Linked DNA regions of Homo sapiens. The protein of the gene in region 2 purifies or fractionates together with the protein of the main gene of each other region. This does not show direct contact. Each region holds a gene or a part of one and is shown on either strand. Other genes may lie near its edges.

What was found. The genes of interacting proteins can lie anywhere in the genome.
Region 1: the proteins of CST9L (region 2) and SLC25A29 purify together in Homo sapiens (affinity purification with mass spectrometry; one large-scale study listed by BioGRID and IntAct). This does not show direct contact.
Region 3: the proteins of CST9L (region 2) and PLXNA3 purify together in Homo sapiens (affinity purification with mass spectrometry; one large-scale study listed by BioGRID and IntAct). This does not show direct contact.
Region 4: the proteins of CST9L (region 2) and GFPT2 purify together in Homo sapiens (affinity purification with mass spectrometry; one large-scale study listed by BioGRID and IntAct). This does not show direct contact.

The regions. Positions count from the first base shown.
Region 1 is NC_000014.9:100,289,589-100,293,544, reverse strand, and holds the end of SLC25A29 (mitochondrial basic amino acids transporter), read left to right. Parts: intron 1-167; coding exon 168-251; intron 252-512; coding exon 513-1,262; 3' UTR 1,263-2,429; downstream 2,430-3,956. UniProt on the Homo sapiens protein: Mitochondrial transporter of arginine, lysine, homoarginine, methylarginine and, to a much lesser extent, ornithine and histidine. Does not transport carnitine nor acylcarnitines. Functions by both counter-exchange and uniport mechanisms.
Region 2 is NC_000020.11:23,564,644-23,570,291, reverse strand, and holds CST9L (cystatin-9-like precursor), read left to right. Parts: upstream 1-1,807; 5' UTR 1,808-1,841; coding exon 1,842-2,081; intron 2,082-4,204; coding exon 4,205-4,318; intron 4,319-5,254; coding exon 5,255-5,344; 3' UTR 5,345-5,560; downstream 5,561-5,648.
Region 3 is NC_000023.11:154,475,267-154,479,306, forward strand, and holds the end of PLXNA3 (plexin-A3 precursor), read left to right. Parts: 3' UTR 1-2,513; downstream 2,514-4,040. Other genes in the region: EKC/KEOPS complex subunit LAGE3, read right to left, coding at 2,678-2,792, 3,017-3,145, 3,462-3,649. UniProt on the Homo sapiens protein: Coreceptor for SEMA3A and SEMA3F. Necessary for signaling by class 3 semaphorins and subsequent remodeling of the cytoskeleton. Plays a role in axon guidance in the developing nervous system.
Region 4 is NC_000005.10:180,303,810-180,308,350, reverse strand, and holds part of GFPT2 (glutamine--fructose-6-phosphate aminotransferase [isomerizing] 2), read left to right. Parts: intron 1-1,047; coding exon 1,048-1,175; intron 1,176-3,411; coding exon 3,412-3,579; intron 3,580-4,541. UniProt on the Homo sapiens protein: Controls the flux of glucose into the hexosamine pathway. Most likely involved in regulating the availability of precursors for N- and O-linked glycosylation of proteins.

The DNA.
Region 1 (3,956 bases), on a different chromosome or scaffold from region 2:
AAGGCATAGATACCCGGCCCACCCTGCCCTGGAATTACAAAAGTCTTAGACTGTGCCTGAGTGCCCGGCCTCCTTGGGAGACCCTCCTAGGCAGCCTAAGCACCAGACCCGGGAGCTGGGTGCTCTGGTCCTGCCTGCCTGCCTCTCACTGGACCCTCTCCTTCCAGGTACGGCTTCAGGTCCAGAGCGTGGAGAAGCCTCAGTACCGCGGGACGTTGCACTGCTTCAAGTCCATCATCAAGCAAGAGAGCGTGAGTGGCCTGGGCTGGTGGGGCTCGGGAGGCACAGGATGGGGAACTAGCTTCCGGGCTGCCACCACCCCAGACCAGAGAGCCAGGAAGGAAGGTGTCAGGACGACCAGGAGGCCAGTCAGGACCTAGGTTCTAACGAAATTCTGCTTGGTCCTCAGGAGCCCCTGGGGTGGGCTGGGGCTGCCATCCCCCGACCCCCTTCCGCGTGGAGGGCCCGGGAGGTGCGCGTTGCCGGCTCTGATGGCGTCTCTGTCCCCGCAGGTGCTGGGCCTGTACAAGGGCCTGGGCTCGCCGCTCATGGGGCTCACCTTCATCAACGCGCTGGTGTTCGGGGTGCAGGGCAACACCCTCCGGGCCCTGGGCCACGACTCGCCCCTCAACCAGTTCCTGGCAGGTGCGGCGGCGGGCGCCATCCAGTGCGTCATCTGCTGCCCCATGGAGCTGGCCAAGACGCGGCTGCAGCTGCAGGACGCGGGCCCAGCGCGCACCTACAAGGGCTCGCTGGACTGCCTCGCGCAGATCTACGGGCACGAGGGTCTGCGTGGCGTCAACCGGGGCATGGTGTCCACGTTGCTGCGTGAGACGCCCAGCTTCGGCGTCTACTTCCTCACCTATGACGCTCTCACGCGGGCGCTGGGCTGCGAGCCGGGCGACCGCCTGCTGGTGCCCAAGCTGCTGTTGGCGGGCGGTACGTCAGGCATCGTGTCCTGGCTCTCTACCTATCCTGTGGACGTGGTCAAGTCGCGGCTGCAGGCGGACGGACTGCGGGGCGCCCCGCGCTACCGCGGCATCCTGGACTGCGTGCACCAGAGCTACCGCGCCGAGGGCTGGCGCGTCTTCACACGGGGGCTGGCGTCCACGCTGCTGCGCGCCTTCCCCGTCAACGCTGCCACCTTCGCCACCGTCACGGTGGTGCTCACCTACGCGCGCGGCGAGGAGGCCGGGCCCGAGGGCGAGGCTGTGCCCGCCGCCCCTGCGGGGCCTGCCCTGGCGCAGCCCTCCAGCCTGTGACGCTCACCCCGCCCTCCTTCCCCAGGGCTCCTTCTCAGAAACCTGGGACATAAATTGGCCCCTGAGTCGATTGCCCTGCTTCCTGCTGGGATGCTGCGAGCTGTGGAGTCTATCAGACGTGGGCTGAATTTTGCTGATCAGCTGGGTAGTTTTGGCCGAGAACTGCACTTGCCTCAGTGTTCTCATCTATGAAATAAGGACCCTCATGCCCACACTGTAGAGTCACGAAGCTCAGAGATTATTCCCAGCAGCAGCCAGCACCTGGCCTGGCTGAGGCCATTGCACCGTTATCCTGGAAACTGAGGCAGACACTCCAGCCCCTTTCTGGGATCCTGGCCACGTCATTGTGCTCCTGCCCTGCAGGCTGGCTCCCGGGGGTCTCTGATGGCCAACCAAGGGGCCACCCAGGGACCTCTAACTCCACACATCCTCCACCCGGGGGGGTGGTGGGCCACCCCTCTGGTCTGTGTTAGGGACAGAGGAAAACTTGGTGTGCCTCCTGGTGTCACAGAACTGGATCCTCTGCATACCCCAGCTTCTCCACATGCCACTGCTAGGGGTACCCCAGCTGCTGCCACTCCTGCTGGAGGGTGAACTGGGGACCCTGCACCCTCCGGGAAGCCATGGAGTCTGCTGGAGGCACCATATCAGCCTGCGGGACTAGGGTGGGGAGCAAACAGGCCAGCGGTGGAGGTCTGGACAGTTCAAGTGTGATGCAGCTGTGGCAAGGAGAAATCCTTCCGCCTCTGGGCCTCAGGCTGCCTGTCCATAAAATGGGGACATGGCCAGCTGACGGACAACTGAGTCTCCGGCCCACCTACCACCGCCAGCCAGGATCCCCCAAAGTGTGCAGAGGGCTCAGCAGAGAACAGTATGGGACCCCCTCACCAGGCCTGGAACACCTCCAGCCACAAAGAAGCCAAAGGTCAGTCCCTCTGCTCCCCAGCAAACGGTGCCTCCCAGGCATTCTCAGTGCCAGGGCTTCATCCCTGTGAAGGCACAGGGCCTGCTAGTGGGCACAGGGGTGGCTAGTTGGGGCCTGGGGCAGAGGAGGGCTGCACCAGGCGTCCTGGGGAATGTGCTCAGTGAAGACGACACTGGGCTTTGCACAGCCTGGTGTCGCTGTACAGAAACTGTCAAGGGAATAAAGTGTTCTTTGTTTTTTAAGTGGCGAGGCTGCCTTTGCATATGGTGGAGGAAAGGGCTTCATTCAGCACCCTTGCCCTGGAGTCGAAGGGGCCAGCTCAGGGGTGCGTGTGCCCTTGGACCCTGACAGCAGCCTTGGCCATGTGACCTGGGCAGTTGCGGATACATCTGAGAGCCTGTTTTCTCATCTGCAAGGCAAGCTAATGAAGGGCGTGAACACGCTGGTGCAGCCTGGCCATTCAGCAGATGCCCCTCTGCTATCATCATCCCAGCAATGAGAGAGAGAGGCCTGTGGTGAGGGGCACTGGCGGGCGGGGCAGCAGGGGCAGGGTGTGTCCCAAAAACAGCTTCCTGGAAGAGGGGAGGTCTGAGTGGAGCTGACCATTTCAGCCACCCGGGCAACTTGGGCACAACTGTACTTAACCCAAACTAGGAGGTCAGAGAGGGCTTCCTGGAAGAGGGCATCCTGGAGCTTTGCCAAAGGTGTGGTGTGGGGGTCTCACTGCCCACCTCACCTGCAGTTCTGTTCAGCCTCCTGGAGTCAGCCCTTGGCATCCTGAGCCTCTGCAGCCACCAGCCCTGGAGGCTTTCCCTCCCAAGTGCTGAGCCAAGAAGCTCTGCCCACTGACAAGGGGGAGTCGGGGAGGGGCCCCAGTTCCTGTGCCTGTTTAACCCTAGTGCTAGCCTGGGAAGTTGGGCTTTACAGGGAGGCAGGAGGCGGGGAGGAAGCTGGCTGTTGACCCCTGGGGTCTCCTGGCCTCTCTCGCTTCTCTTTACTCTGAAATAAACCAGGGGAAGCTCCCAGGGATGGGGGAAACACCCTGGCCATGGGCACAGAGAGGGGCCCCTTCCCTAGCTCCTCCATGTCCAGCTTTGGCAGCCCCTTTGCCTCTCTAGGCCTGGGTGGCTGAATCTCTCAGGGCAGCTTGAGTGTGGCCTGTGGCTGTGGTCCCCATCACCCTGGATCTCTCCACACATCTGCACTCTCTAGAAAGGCCCCAACGTGACCCTTGTCAGGAACTAATTTGAGCCCTGCTCACCCTGGGGCTTCTCCACGAACCCTGCGGCTGCCTGCCCTCTGGGGACAGCACACAGACAGGCCAGCCCTTCAGAAGTGAGGAGTGGTGCGGCAAGGAGCAAGGTGAAGGGGCGGGGGGCTTCTAGCTCCCTCCCACTTCCCAGTTCAGCGGCCTCACATGACCAACACATCTGCCAGGCAGGGAGTAGAGTTGTTGTTTTTAATGAATTTATTTTACATTTTCTTTTCTCCCTGATTTGAACTTTTTTTTTTTTTTTTTTTTGAGTCTTGCTCTGTTGCCCAGGCTGGAGTGCAGTGGTGCTCTTTCAGCTCACTGCAACCTCTACCTCCCGGGTTCAAGTGATTCTTCTGCCTCAGCCTCCAAGTAACTGGGATTACAGGCGTGCACCACCACACCTGGCAAATGTTTCTATTTTTATTAGAGACAGGGTTTCACCATCTTGACCAGGCTGGTCTCAAACTCCTGACCTCAAGTGATCCACCCGCCTCAGCCTCCCAAAGTGCTGGGA
Region 2 (5,648 bases):
TGCCTGTAATCCCAGCACATTAGGAGGCTGAGGTGGGAGGACCACTTGAGGCCAGGAAAGTTCGAGACCAGCTTGGCCTACATGGCAAAACCCCATCTCTACTAAAAACACAAAGAATTAGCCGGGCATGGTGCAACACGCCTGTAATCTCAGCTACTCAGGAGGCTGAGGCAGGAGAATCTCTTGAACCTGGGAGGCGGAGGTTGCAGCAGTGAGCCAAGATCACACCACCGCACTCAAGCCTGGGCAACAGAGATTCCGTCAAAAAAAAAAAAAAAAACAACCCATGAAACAACGCAATGGGCCAGATTTCACCTGTTATCATTGCTAATCAGGACACAGGTTTCAGCTACTCTGTGTCACCCACTTCCTGGAGTCAAGGCAGAAGATCAAGATGCACATGGCTCCTGGGCAGCAGCTCCCCACACACTAGCTACTTTCTTCTGTCTGTGATGGGTGAAGTCTCCTGTGAGGAGACACTCGGGACCACCCCAGTGTTGGGTCAGGCAGCATGACTCTCTTCACCTGCAGCTGTCTTGACCTGGCCAGTGCTGTGCTAGTGTGGACAGATGCAGTGATGCTCTTCCCAGGCCTGGCCCTGCTGTGATCTGGGAACATGGTATGGGACACAGTCAGAACAGTTCTTGTAGAATCAGTCTCCCTGACTTGGGACTGAACTTTCTATTCTGTTATCTGGCAACAATGCTAGGTTCTTGCCTATATTGCAGCACCATAGTCTTCTCAGCCAAACTCAAAGCTCTCACTTTTGCATACTTCACCTGTCCTGCACTATTTAATGTTCATTCTTACAGCAACAAAATATTATTATTTCCTCTTTCAGGTTAGTTATTGCCAGGAAATTGATTTAAAAGTAACCACCTAGTATCACCTAAGTGCTGGCAAAATAGCTCACTCTAGAACACCAAGAAGGATGGTCAGATGGAGACAAAAATGATCAAGGGGCTGAAGAATGGTCCAACCTCTATCTCACTGAGGCAGAAACATGTGATCTCCCAGAGAAGTGTTTAAAAATTTGGTCTAGAATGATATTCCAGTCTAATAAAACATGAGTGTGTGTGGTGGGGCTGCAGATGTAGGGCGGTGGGCCCTGTAGAAACCTTGGCTCTGGCTCAGCTGGAACCAGGGCTGACAAGGTTTAGAAATGCAAGCAGGGCTGGGCTGGGCATGACCAGGCTGGGGCCTCAGGACTTGGGTCTCTGTCTTTCCTGCCCTTTTCTCACAATACTCATTGTCCATCCCAGGTCAAAATGGTTGATAAAAATTGCCATTTATTTTTTTCATTTTTTCCCTTGGTTCACAGAGTACAACTGTTGAGGTATTATACAACAAAAGAACAAACTGATATCTTAGTTATTTTTCTGAACAACGGAGATCCTCTCTTCGACGGGGTGAAGGAGGGGAGAGTGAGAGTCGAGATGTCCCCAGGTCTTATCTCAGTTCGCTGTGGGAGGCGAAGGCACAGAATCATCCAAGGACACCAAGCACCTGAGGACAACCAGAACCTGTGGGTTCTGAAGGAGCAGCCTTCAAAGCTAGTGGCAGAGGGTAGCTCCCCTCCTGCCTGTGGCTTGTGCTGGCCTAGAGAGTATAGGGCAGAAGGATGGCAGATGAGTGACTCCACATCCAGAGCTGCCTCCCTTTAATCCAGGATCCTGTCCTTCCTGTCCTGTAGGAGTGCCTGTTGCCAGTGTGGGGTGAGACAAGTTTGTCCCACAGGGCTGTCTGAGCAGATAAGATTAAGGGCTGGGTCTGTGCTCAATTAACTCCTGTGGGCACGGGGGCTGGGAAGAGCAAAGTCAGCGGTGCCTACAGTCAGCACCATGCTGGGCCTGCCGTGGAAGGGAGGTCTGTCCTGGGCGCTGCTGCTGCTTCTCTTAGGCTCCCAGATCCTGCTGATCTATGCCTGGCATTTCCACGAGCAAAGGGACTGTGATGAACACAATGTCATGGCTCGTTACCTCCCTGCCACAGTGGAGTTTGCTGTCCACACATTCAACCAACAGAGCAAGGACTACTATGCCTACAGACTGGGGCACATCTTGAATTCCTGGAAGGAGCAGGTTGGTGACCACGTACCCTCCTGCCCTGGCATCTGGCATGTGCTGCTCAGTGAAAAATGGGAGTGGGGTGGGGACAGGGGGTCTTATTGAAGAGTCTTGTTCACCAGTTGTAGTCCATACTTAAGAAAATACAAGGTAGTTTAGTTAGTTTTTGATTTTGAAAACATCTAAGTTAGAAATTTCAAATAATTTGATCCTAATCAACTCTCATGAAAAACATATTGTTTAATCTCCATCTTTTTATGACATTATTTAACTGAAGAATGACTTCAAAATGAGGACTACCAAGAAAATGAAGATACGGAATAAGGAAAAGGGCTGAACAGAAAATGTGAATAGAGAGAAATTGAGAAATACTTCCAAAAAATGTAATAAAAAAGAGATAATTTAAAAAATGAAAATTAAAAAAGAGAACAGTAAGGGTTCAGGAGCAATAAGAAACCCCCACCAGTCCCAAAAGACCTCTGGGTGGTCAGTTCCTCTTTGCTGATTTCCAACTTCTCTGAGCTCCTTGGTGTGTCTGCACTTAATAAACTGAAGACTGTTTCACACTCTTCCTCAGACCACAGGTCTTAATCCTAAATGTTCTCCTTTTAATGAAGTCACTACAGAATGCAATCAGGAATGCACAGTTCATCTGTGCTGTAGGCATGAACAATGAAAATAGTCACCAAGTTGAGGACTTTTTTTTTTTTTTTTTTTTGAGATGGAATCTTGCTCTGTCACCCAGGCTAGAGTACAGTGGCGTCATCTCCGCTCACTGCAAGATCCGCCTCCCAGGTTCAAGTGATTCTCCTGCCTCAGCCTCCCAAATAACTGGGATTACAGGCACCCGCCAGATGCCTGGTTAATTTTTTGTATTTTTAGTAGAGACAGGGTTTCACTATGTTGGCCAGGCTGGTCTTGAACTCCTGACCTCATGATCTGCCCACCTCGGCCTCCCAAAGTGCTGGGATTACAGGCATGAGCCACTGCACCCAGCTAAGTTGAGGACTTCTAGTTGGGTAGAGAGGCAAAAATGCTCTTCCTACCTCATTACTGAAACCTTGCAAGAAGAGCAAAAGGACCCCAACCCTGCACCAAGCTTCAGCCTCTGGAAAGACCCTGTGCAAGGCCCTGGCTGGTTCTCTGACCCCTGCTCTCTGGGCTGGAGCCTGCCACGTGGGTTCCTGGATGTGACAATTCCAGAGTCAGTTTTGGAGTTGGGGAAATGGACGGATAGGGAGAAAGGAGATGGAATGAAGTGAAACTGAAAGGAGTGAGAAGATCAAGGTGCACTTTGCAATAGGGCAGATGGTGTTTCTTTCTTTCTTTCTTTCTTTTGATATGGAGTCTCACCCTGTCAACCAGGCTGGAGTGCAATGGCACAATCTCAGCTCCCTGCAACCTCTGCCTCCCGGGTTCAAACAATTCTCCTGCCTCAGCCTCCCTCCCGAGTAGCTGGGATTACAAGCACCTGCCACCATGCCCAGCTAACTTTTGTATTTTTAGTAGAGATGGGTTTTCACCATGTTGGCCAGGCTGGTCTCGAACTCCCGACCTCATTATTCACCCACCCCAGCCTCCAAAAGTGCTGGGATTACAGGTGTGAGCCACCACACCCGGCCCCAGATGGTGTTTCTTGAAGCCATTGTCCCAAGGATGTATGCCTGTGTGTAGTGGGAGTGCTGGGTGGCATTCTTGCATTTTTTTTTTCCTCAGGTCAGGTGGAAGGTTTGACAACATGCCCTAGATGAGGCTCCCTCTGTCCCAGGGCTGAGGTTACCCTGAAAGCTCTTGGAGAGCCAAACCCCTCCCCAGGCACATAGCGCCATCCTCTGGAAATGCAGCTGCAGGTTCAGACACTGACTGAGAGTGAAACTGGGGTCTCACCATGGGAGAGTGGGAAGTGCATCTGGAAATAGGGATACATTCATGGGTGTCTGCCCTGGGGCCACCATGCCCATCCGCTTTTTGTTCTTAACTGCCCAATCTAAAGAAGATCTCCTGATGCCAGGCCCATGGGCAAGCTCCCTAATGGAGGAGAATGTTGGGACTTCTCCTACACAAATGACATCTTCACCAGCAGCTACTTAGGGGCAACAAGGAGGGTGTGTTCACATTAATCTCTCTGTGTGCAATAGGTGGAGTCCAAGACTGTATTCTCAATGGAGCTACTGCTGGGGAGAACTAGGTGTGGGAAATTTGAAGACGACATTGACAACTGCCATTTCCAAGAAAGCACAGAGCTGAACAATGTAAGACAGGACACCAGCTTCCCTCCTGGATACAGCTGTGGATGCCACATGGGGTGTGGTGTGGGCACAGGTGCAACTGACAAAGAGACTTAGAGGAGTGAGCCTGCAGCAGCCTCTACCAGGCTGCCCTGCTTGTGCCTTAGTGGGGAGCGCAGAGGGGCAGGCAGCTAGGGGTCCACTTGCAGGCTCCTGGCCAATCTGAGTTTATCAACTCTGCCCTGTCATGCCACTGCAGCTGCCTGCACCCAGGGCACATGGCCTTCAGACTGCTCTTTCCCCCTGGGGTCCCAGTCTCCTGGGTCCAGTAAGAAGTGGTCCCCTCTCTGGTCTTCCTCCCCTGCCTTCTGGAAGAACCTGGGATCTGACATCACCTCTGTCTGTGGATGCAGTTCTCAGGGTTTCCTTACCCTCCCCTAGACCCAAAAGTGGTAGAGGCTGAGAAGGAGCCCCACTACCCTCCCTCCCAGGCCCTGAGCTGAGCTGCAGCACCTGCTCTAGGGGACAAGCTCCAAGTAAAGCCTGGCTCTGGGAAAACTCTTCCTATGCTTAATCAACACCCTTATTGTAATATTAAAAAATAGGTAGCTGATTGCTTAAATCTGGGAACTGCTTCCACTGGGACAATGCATTCTCCTGCTGCTCTTGGGTGCAGGGATCACACCAGGACAGCCCGGGGTTCCCCTGAGGGCCACTGCTAGGGAGTGGGGAACATTGCACAGGCGCCCCTGGGTCAGAAAAGAGTTGCAGTTCAGCTCAAATCTCCAGAACAGCCCAGGACTCAGGCTTGGGGGCAGCACATGATAGCCAGAGGCCCCGTCTTCCCACTGCTTGACCTGGGAAAGGGCAATGTGGAGAGGAAGCCATTGTTCAGAGCTTGAGCCATGAGCTTCCTGAGCCTCCCTCACCCACTGTCCCTTCCTGTGCTTGTTCTCTCAGACTTTCACCTGCTTCTTCACCATCAGCACCAGGCCCTGGATGACTCAGTTCAGCCTCCTGAACAAGACCTGCTTGGAGGGATTCCACTGAGTGAAACCCACTCACAGGCTTGTCCATGTGCTGCTCCCACATTCCGTGGACATCAGCACTACTCTCCTGAGGACTCTTCAGTGGCTGAGCAGCTTTGGACTTGTTTGTTATCCTATTTTGCATGTGTTTGAGATCTCAGATCAGTGTTTTAGAAAATCCACACATCTTGAGCCTAATCATGTAGTGTAGATCATTAAACATCAGCATTTTAAGAAACTTTGTGTGCTGTAGTTCTCGATAAAAGGGGCTGGGTGTTTGATGGAGTTATTCTCACCAGGGCAGACAAGTAGGATCTGGGTAGATG
Region 3 (4,040 bases), on a different chromosome or scaffold from region 2:
AATTTTGTATTTTTAGTAGACACAGGGTTTCTCCATGTTGGTCAGGCTGGTCTCGAGCTCCCGACCTCAGGTGATCCGCCCGCCTCAGCCTCCCAAAGTGCTGGGATTACAGGCATGAGCCACTGTTCCTGGCCTTTCTTCTTTTTTTGTTTTTGTTTTTTTTTGAGATGCAATTTTAAATAGGGTGGCTTGGACAGCCACCTGAGTTGGGTTTAAAAGCTGCCAGCTCCAGCCGTCCAGCTGTGGGGCCACGGTGCCAGACAGTGGTGGTGGTTATAGGACCGTAGGTGTTTACCAAAACTAGACAAGTCCACATAACAACCAACTGCACAAATAAGGAGTAAAATAATAAAGAGAAGGACGTGTGAGGCAGGACTGGATTGTAGCCCAGGATAAAGAGAAGTTGCGGGATGACAGCTGTGCCGTCGGCCCAGACAGAACCATCTGGACAGAGGACAGAGGATAAGGGAGATGGTTGAAAATACTACCATCATATGATAATGACAACTAAGCCACAGGAAAACAAGGCAGTTTTAACCTCAGGGGAAATCCCTCAGAAATGGATGGAATCTACCAGAAGCATCATGAGAGGAAGAGGAAGGGAAACAGAGCTAAATTGGGGCCAGGTGTGGTGGCTCGCACTTGTCATCCCAGCACTTTTGGAGGCCCAGGCGGGAAGATCACTGGAGCCCAGGAGTTCAGGACCAGCCTGGGCAACAAAGCGAGATCCCCTCTCTACAAAAAATAAAAAACTAGCCAGGCATGGTGGTGCATGCCTGTGGTCCCAGTTACTCAGGAGGCTGAGGTGCTGGGGAACAAGGCTGCAGTGAGCTGTGATTGTGCCAGCCTAGGTGACAGAGCCAGACCCTGTATCAAAAAAAATAATAATAATTAAAAAACAAAAGATCGGCTGGGCGCGGTGGCTCATGCCTGTAATCCCAGCACTTTGGGAGGCTGAGGTGGGTGGACCACCTGAGGTCGGGAGTTCGAGACCAGCCTCACCAACATGGAGAAACCCTGTGTCTACTAAAAATACAAAATTAGCTGGGCGTGGTGGTGCATGCCTGTAATTCTAGCTACTTGGGAGGCTGAGGCAGGAGAATTCACTTGAACCCGGGAAGTGGAGGTTGCGGTGAGCCAAGATCGCACCATTGCACTCCAGCCTGGGCAACAAGAGTGAAACACTGTCTCAAAAAAAAAAAAAAAAAGTGAAAGATCTAAATTGTCAACTATTCGTCAATAATTAATGTCTAAAAAATATTAAGAAAGGAAGAAAGGAATGAGAGCAAAAGAGAGGGAGAGAGGAAAGTGTCATCTTCATAAGCTGAAGGCCAGTGCCACCGTCACCACTGGCAGAGCTCCCCAGATTCTACAAAGGGAAACTGTTCCTCCATATGGAGTAATAGGGACTGGATATGTCATGCCAAATGAAAGAACACGCCAAACCAGACAAAATATATGGAATGCAGAGTATTAAAAAACTGGCTGTGGGCCAGTGAGGGACAGCGACGTGTGGGAGCTGGGAAACAAGGTAAGCCATGCGACTGGCCCAGTGTCCTGTGTGGAGTTTCCTGGTGGAGCCTGGCAGACACCCGGACTTTAGGAGTTGAAACTGATTCAGAGCGTCCCAGCAGCTGGAGTTTGCAGGGCGGAGAACCAGAGAGAAGAGAGCTGCACAGGGAAAGAACCCTGGATATCCACAGAGGCTCCCGTTCCAGTGTGCAGCGGACTACGACTACTGGTGAGCACAGGCGTGTGAGGAAGCTACCCAAGACCAGGGAAGGCCATCACCCCAGCAGGAGAGGATGAACGGTAACTCCAGTGTGCAAGCAGGACAGGGACTAGCAGCTGTCCCCACCCACCAGGATAGAGAAGCTCATGTTCACCTAGGCAGCACTGGCCAGGGTGCCCAGAATGGTGTTTGTTGCCTCCATAGAGGGAAACAAGCCTACAGTTAAGAGCTGCTCTGGTCCCACACAGCACATCTTCAAAGCAAGACTCAAAAGGATCAAACCATTTCCTTGTTTTCTGAGAATAAAAGCAGTTGTACCTCTTCCTTTTCACTCTCAGAAAATCTGATAGAATCTATAAAAGAGCCCTAAGGCTGGAGACACTGTATTTTCCAGGGAGCCAACTCCTTGCCCCAGACACTAGTCAATTGCCCCAGCACTTTCTTCACTGATCGTTAGAGGAAAAAAGCTCATGTTAGATTTAAAAATCAGGAAAAAAATTTAACACTAAACTTGCAAATATTATGTGGTGTATATTACAGTTACACATTTACTATGTAAGTGCAACTGTAAAACTGAGGAAGTATTCCAAAATGTTGACAGTAGTTAATCCTGAATGACAGAACCCAATTGATTTTCATTTTCTTCCATTTCCTAAATTGTCTTCAATTTCCTTGTACTCCTTGAATATCTGAATTCTAGAACCCCCCCCCCAGCAACCCAAGCACAACAAGAATATTGGGAGGTGCCCCAGCTGCAAATAAACTCAGACTTGGAATAGTAGCGCAGTTTTATTTTCTGTAGTAACAAACATTTAAGAACCAGATAAAACATGAGGCCCTCCCAGGAAAGTAGCAACTGTGGGAATTCCTGCCCTAGGGAAGGATGGACGCACTGCCTACAAGGAGACGCAAAGTGGGACCTCGCTCCATTTGCCCAGGCCAGGCTTAGCGGGAAACGGGGGGCCCAAAGCGCTGCATGGTCCGCACCACCAGGGAAAGCTGGTCAAGAAAGTTGATGACGGAAATTCGGAGCAGGCGACAGTCTTCAGCTTTCCAGCGGCTAAAAGTGAGGGGAAAAGAAAATCAAATTGGAGGTGGCAACTCCTGGTCCCTCGCTCTGCCCCTCAGGCACCCAATATAGCAAACCCTTGGGAGCCCTGCCATTACACAGCCCCTCAGGCAGAGACCGGCCCAGCGCACCTGGCGCTCCTTAGGGCTCATCCTTGGATGTCCCCCATGTCTCCATGGGCCGCCTCCCCCAACCCCGTCCCTTTCAGAACTTACACGACCAGGATCCTGCCACTCACTGTGAGATCCTTCCCAACCACCCTTTGGTGGGGCTCGGCATCTGGTGCCAGGGACCCATGGGCGATTTCCGCCTCCAAGGGGGTCGGGAAAGGCACGCTGAGGGTGCTGGGGGTCATTCGGTTAAGGTGCCATCTGATACGATCTTGCCTATGTCTCAGGCCTTCTTGCTCCTCTGAAGCCCCCTCTCAGGTCACCCTGCCTAGTGTCACCCCCTTCACTCCTTACCTCGCCCAGGCCACCGTTAGCAGAGCTTCTCCCTCCATTTCAATGTCTTCCCCTCCTCCGACCACCTCTGACCGTATACGCCAGCCCCGGTCCCCCCCTGCTACCCTTTCCGTCGGCCCCCCGCCCGCCCTCCTTTCCTTCTCCCCGAGTCCAGCCCTCGCTCCGCCGCAAGCAGCCCCCAGCTCGGAAAGGATACAATATGTGCGGCCGCATTCGTGACCCCCTGGCCGCAGACGCGGCGTCTCTGCCCGGACCTGGCGCGTGCGCTGGGGGAGCTCCACCGGCCGGAGCTGCGGCTGTGTCCACGCCCCCGCGGCAGCTGTGGCCACCCCGGCCATCCCCGCCGTCAGCGCCTCCGCCTGCGTCTGCATCCGCGTCCCGCATGACCGCCGCCGCGCCGCTCCGACTCCACCCCCGAAGCGCAGGTCCTACGCCCCGCCCTCTCTGTGGCTCCTTCCCGAAGCCCCGCCCCCTGCGCACGACTCCGCCCACACGCGCCTGCGCAGGTCCCTGGAGAGCCTGACTGGCGCGTGGTCAGTTCCCGCCAAGCGGCCCTGCCGGGGGCCTTCTGAGACCCGGTCAGCGGTTGAGAGGCTGCGGTTTCCTCCAGAAACTCTGCCCTTTCGCGCGTAACTCGATTCCAGAGCGCTGGTGCAAACTGACCCACAGTCGGTCCGGCCCCAGGAAGCCAACCCTGACGGGGCTTTTGAAGACACCGTGGTCGCCTATCCCAGAGGCGCACCCCGCGAGGCTCCGCCCCTAAGCGCGCCTTGTG
Region 4 (4,541 bases), on a different chromosome or scaffold from region 2:
TAATGTAATAGATTTAGTGTTGTTATTTTAAAGTGAATATTTTTAAATTTCTCATTGTTAGTTTCTTTCTTTCTTTTTCTTCTTTTTTTTTTTTCGAGATGGAGTCTCGCTCTGTTGCCCAGGCTGGAGTGCCGTGGTGCCATCTCAGCTCACTGCAAGCTCCGCCTCCCAGGTTCACGCCACTCTCCTGCCTCAGCCTCCCGAGTAGCTGGGACTACAGGCGCCCGCCACCATGCCCGGCTAATTTTTTGTATTTTTAGTAGATACCAGGTCTCACCATGTTAGCCAGGATGGTCTCGATCTCCTGACCTCGTGATCCGCCTGCCCCAGCCTTCCAAAGTGCTGGGATTACAGGCGTGAGCCACCGCACCCAACCACGCCCGGCTAATTTTTTGTATTTTTAGTAGAGACGGGGTTTTACCATGTTAGCCAGGATGGTCTCGATCTCCTGACCTCATGATCCACCCGCCTCGGCCTCCCAAAGTGCGGCGATTACAGGCGTGAGCCACCACGCCTGGTCCTCAGTGTTATTTTCTAATCTGGTAAATGTTGACAGATTTAACTCAAAAACAAAGGCTCTTGGGGATGTGCAATAATTTGAGGGACTTGCAATAATTTTCAAGAGTGTAAAGGAGTCCTGAGACCAAAGGGTTTGAGAACCGGTGGTCCCACTTACAGGGGCCTTGTCTTGAGACACAGCAGGAAAGAGGGGTGTTAACTGGTGGTGTCAGCTCTGTCTCCAGTGGGTGATTTTTGCCTCTCTGAGCCTCAGTTGTCTTACCTGCAAAACGGAGTGAGAAATGGTACTTCCTACCTTGTTGGTGCTCAAGAAAGTGTTCACACAACACGAATCCCCATCCTAACAGAATCCTGGCCAGGAGCCCAAGTTATTTCCTGTAATCTACGTTTGAAACGAATGCGAGGAAGCAAAGTGTGCTAAGTGATGCGGTTTCAAAAGCTCCTCTTAAACCCCAGCATTTGTCTTCATGAATATTGCTTTAAAGTCGGCCTGACTGGTTTTCTCCCTCTGCTCCGTGCATGGCCCAGAGCTGATCAAGGAAGTGCTGTCTCTGGAGGAGAAGATCCACGACTTGGCCCTGGAGCTCTACACGCAGAGATCGCTGCTGGTGATGGGGCGGGGCTACAACTATGCCACCTGCCTGGAAGGAGCCCTGGTGAGCCCCCACCCCCAGCCCCCACCCCCACGGAGGACAGGCACAGGAGACCCTGAGGAGCCAGCGGGAAGGAGGGCAGGGCGTTGGGCTTGGGGAGGGCCGGGCCTAAGGACCCCTTGGCCAGTCCTGTGAGCCTGCGCTGAGCACCAGCTCTCCACCAGGTTTCTAGCCCTGGGCACACAGAGATGGGTGAGGCAGGTGCCTGCCCCCAGGGATCTCCCAATCTACTGAGGAGAAAGGGACAGGGCGCCTGGGGTGTGCCCCTCCGGCTGTCCAGGCACTGCCAGGGTCCACTTGGAACAGCTCACTCAGACCTCATGAGCTGCTTCTGAGAGGTTGGCGGTTGCTATTCACCCTCATTCAGGAGGAAACAAAGCCTCTGAAAGCTTAAGTATCTCACTCAAGATGACGTAGGGGACCCGAATCAGACCTGAGTCCATGGGGCCTTCGCTTTTTTCCACCAAAATTGAGGGGTGGGTTCTCCGCAGAGTTTCCTTGTTACCCCTCAAACTTCCAAGGGGAGTTTGAGATCCTGCAGGAATTAACTTCGAAGGCCTTGCTTTTTCAAAAATTGGTGACAGGCCATTTGCCCCCTGCAGCATTAAAGATCCACGCCAGGAAAGAGAAAGCTGATGGGGCAGGGACAGGGTGCCAGGGCCACAGGGCTGCCCAGAGGGTGGGCAGAGAGCCGTGCAGGGTCCTGCATCTCGGACTTGCCCTTTCCTCGCTGTCAGCATGCCATGCACGGAGCAGATGCTCAGCCCAGGTGACGGGGACAGTGCTCCAGCTGAGGCTGCACTGGCCACCAAGACGAGGGCATTAACCGTGGCCCAGCTGGGCTGCCATCCTCTCCCATCTCCTCCCCACCACCCCCATTTGAAAGACAATGCTAGGCTGGCACAGTGGTCCACGCCTGTAATCCCAGCACTTTGGGAGGCCAAGGCAGTCAGATCATTTGAGGTCAGGAGTTCGAGACCAGCCTGGACAACATGGTAAAAGCCCATCTCTACCAAAAATTCAAAAACTAGCTGGGCGTGGTGGTGCACGCCTGTAATCCCAGCTACATGGGAGGCTGAGGCAGGAGAATCGCTTGAATCCAAGAGGAGGAGGTTGCAGTGAGCCAAGATCATGCCACTGCACTCCAGCCTGGGAGACAGAACGAGACTCCCATCTCAACGAAAAAAAAAAAAAAGAAAGAAAGAAAAAAAAAAGAAAGACAATGCCAGTTACAAGTGGTTACCGGAAACATTCAGAGTTGATTTCCTTGGTCTTGGTGGGGAGTGCAGGGCTGTCCTCACTGAGCTCCATCTCCTGCACCTGCCCCCTGGAGATTCTGACTCCTGTTAAAGAACAGGCAGGTGCTGCTTCTTGGAGTGCAGTAGAGGCAAGGCCTGGGGTGCACTGTCAGTCCCCAGATGACTCTGCGTCATGGGTGGGGGCTGAGCTGCGGTGGCTGAACGTGCTGGCGGGAGATGCACATTGCAGCTATGCCTCCGCATGAGTCTGCTGAAGGAAGAAGCGTTTAGGTGGCTGCTGGCACGAGCCCATGGTCCTCTGGTCACTGGGAGGCCGGCACTGCAGCTGTCTGCGCCTCCAGACTGGAGCCGCACTCCTTACAGTGTGGCCCTGACCTAAATCAGCAGTGCTAGCGGGGAGTCGAGAGATGATTTATTTGACTGTCTCACCATTTCAATGACGTGGATTTGTGGTAACTGAATAGAGATGGATCTACCTGAACACAGGAAAAAAATTAATTCAAATAACACCCCAGTTTGTGTGATTTTGCTTGGAACCACTCTTTAGAAGTTATTAATGGGCAAATGCTTAATCAGATAATTAACTGAAGGTGTAGCTAAGCTGAATACGATGCTGTCGTTATACACGTGGCTGGCTAGGGAGGAGCAGGGGGTGAGCTAGGCTGACTCCGACTTGTTTGTCCTAAGGGGTGGCTGTGCGTGGGACTGGAGAGAGACAACAGCAGTGCCCGGGGCTGGTGTGGGGACACAGAGGTTGTGTCCCGGGCTGGTGCATGCTCTGGATGGTAGCCAGGCCTCTCCCCAGGCCCTTGCTGGGTGTCCTCAGTGCTGTCAAGCACTCCAGGCATCTGTCTGCCTTGCAACCCTTGGCTCTCTGCCTTCCAGAGTCATCCTTCCCCTGGTTCCCCTTCTTCCCCTCTGGCTGATCTGCTCCAGCCCCATCTGCCCAGTGTGACTCTGATCTCACCTCCTGTTTCCAGAAAATTAAAGAGATAACCTACATGCACTCAGAAGGCATCCTGGCTGGGGAGCTGAAGCACGGGCCCCTGGCACTGATTGACAAGCAGATGCCCGTCATCATGGTCATTATGAAGGATCCTTGCTTCGCCAAATGCCAGAACGCCCTGCAGCAAGTCACGGCCCGCCAGGTGAGGGCTCTCCACTGGACTGGGCCAGCTCTCTCCTGCTTTTCCCCATGCATGCCCACCTCACCACTGTCTGCCAGTACCAGTGATGGATGGTCTGGCCAGTGAGTGGCTGTGACCACACACCCTCCCCCGGGCCGCCTGTGGGGAGTGCACACACTTGGAAAGGAGCTGGTCAGCCCGCAGCTGTCCCACACAGCTCTTTGGTGGGGCCCAGGGACCCACACTGCTGTGAGCAGCACCAGATCCTAGCCTGGAGCTCAGGGGAGGTACTCCTGGTGGACATCCCTGGGGCAGGGTTTCCCCAGGTTCTGCGGCCAAGCAGCTCCGATGGGAACTACCTGGAGTTAGGTCAGGTCTCATAGGGCAGGGGCACAGCTTTCCATAAGACTGCCCTCGATTCAGGCACCTGTTGCAAGCCAGGGGTCCACCCACACATCTGAGCAACTGACTATGAATCCAAGGATTCCCACTCTCCCCTGAAGTTCAGTAATTTTCTAGAACGACCCATAGAACTCAGGAGATGACTATATGATTACAGTTTTATTATAAAAGATATAAATCACAGCCAACCCAAAAGAAGAGACCCCTAGTTTGAGGGCCCCAGATGTGAAGCTTGTGTCCTCAGGATGTGTCACCCTCCCAGCACGTCACTGTGTGTCGCCCGGGAGCTCCCCTGAGCTGCTAGCTCCAGTGTCCAGAGTTTGTATTGTGGTTTTATTAAGTAGGCAGGATGGAGTGAACCATTGGCCATGTGATCAAACTCAGTCGCCAGCCCCACTTTTGTCCTTGGAGGTTGGGAGGTCAGACTGACAGGCTCATGTCTCAAAGCCCCAACCTTCTAATCATGTGGCTGGCCTTTCTAGCAGGGCCAGACGCCATCCTGGAACTATCTACAGGCCCACCACGAGTCGTCACCTTAGCATAAAGTTAGGTATAGTCCAAGGGACCTCCCATAAATAACA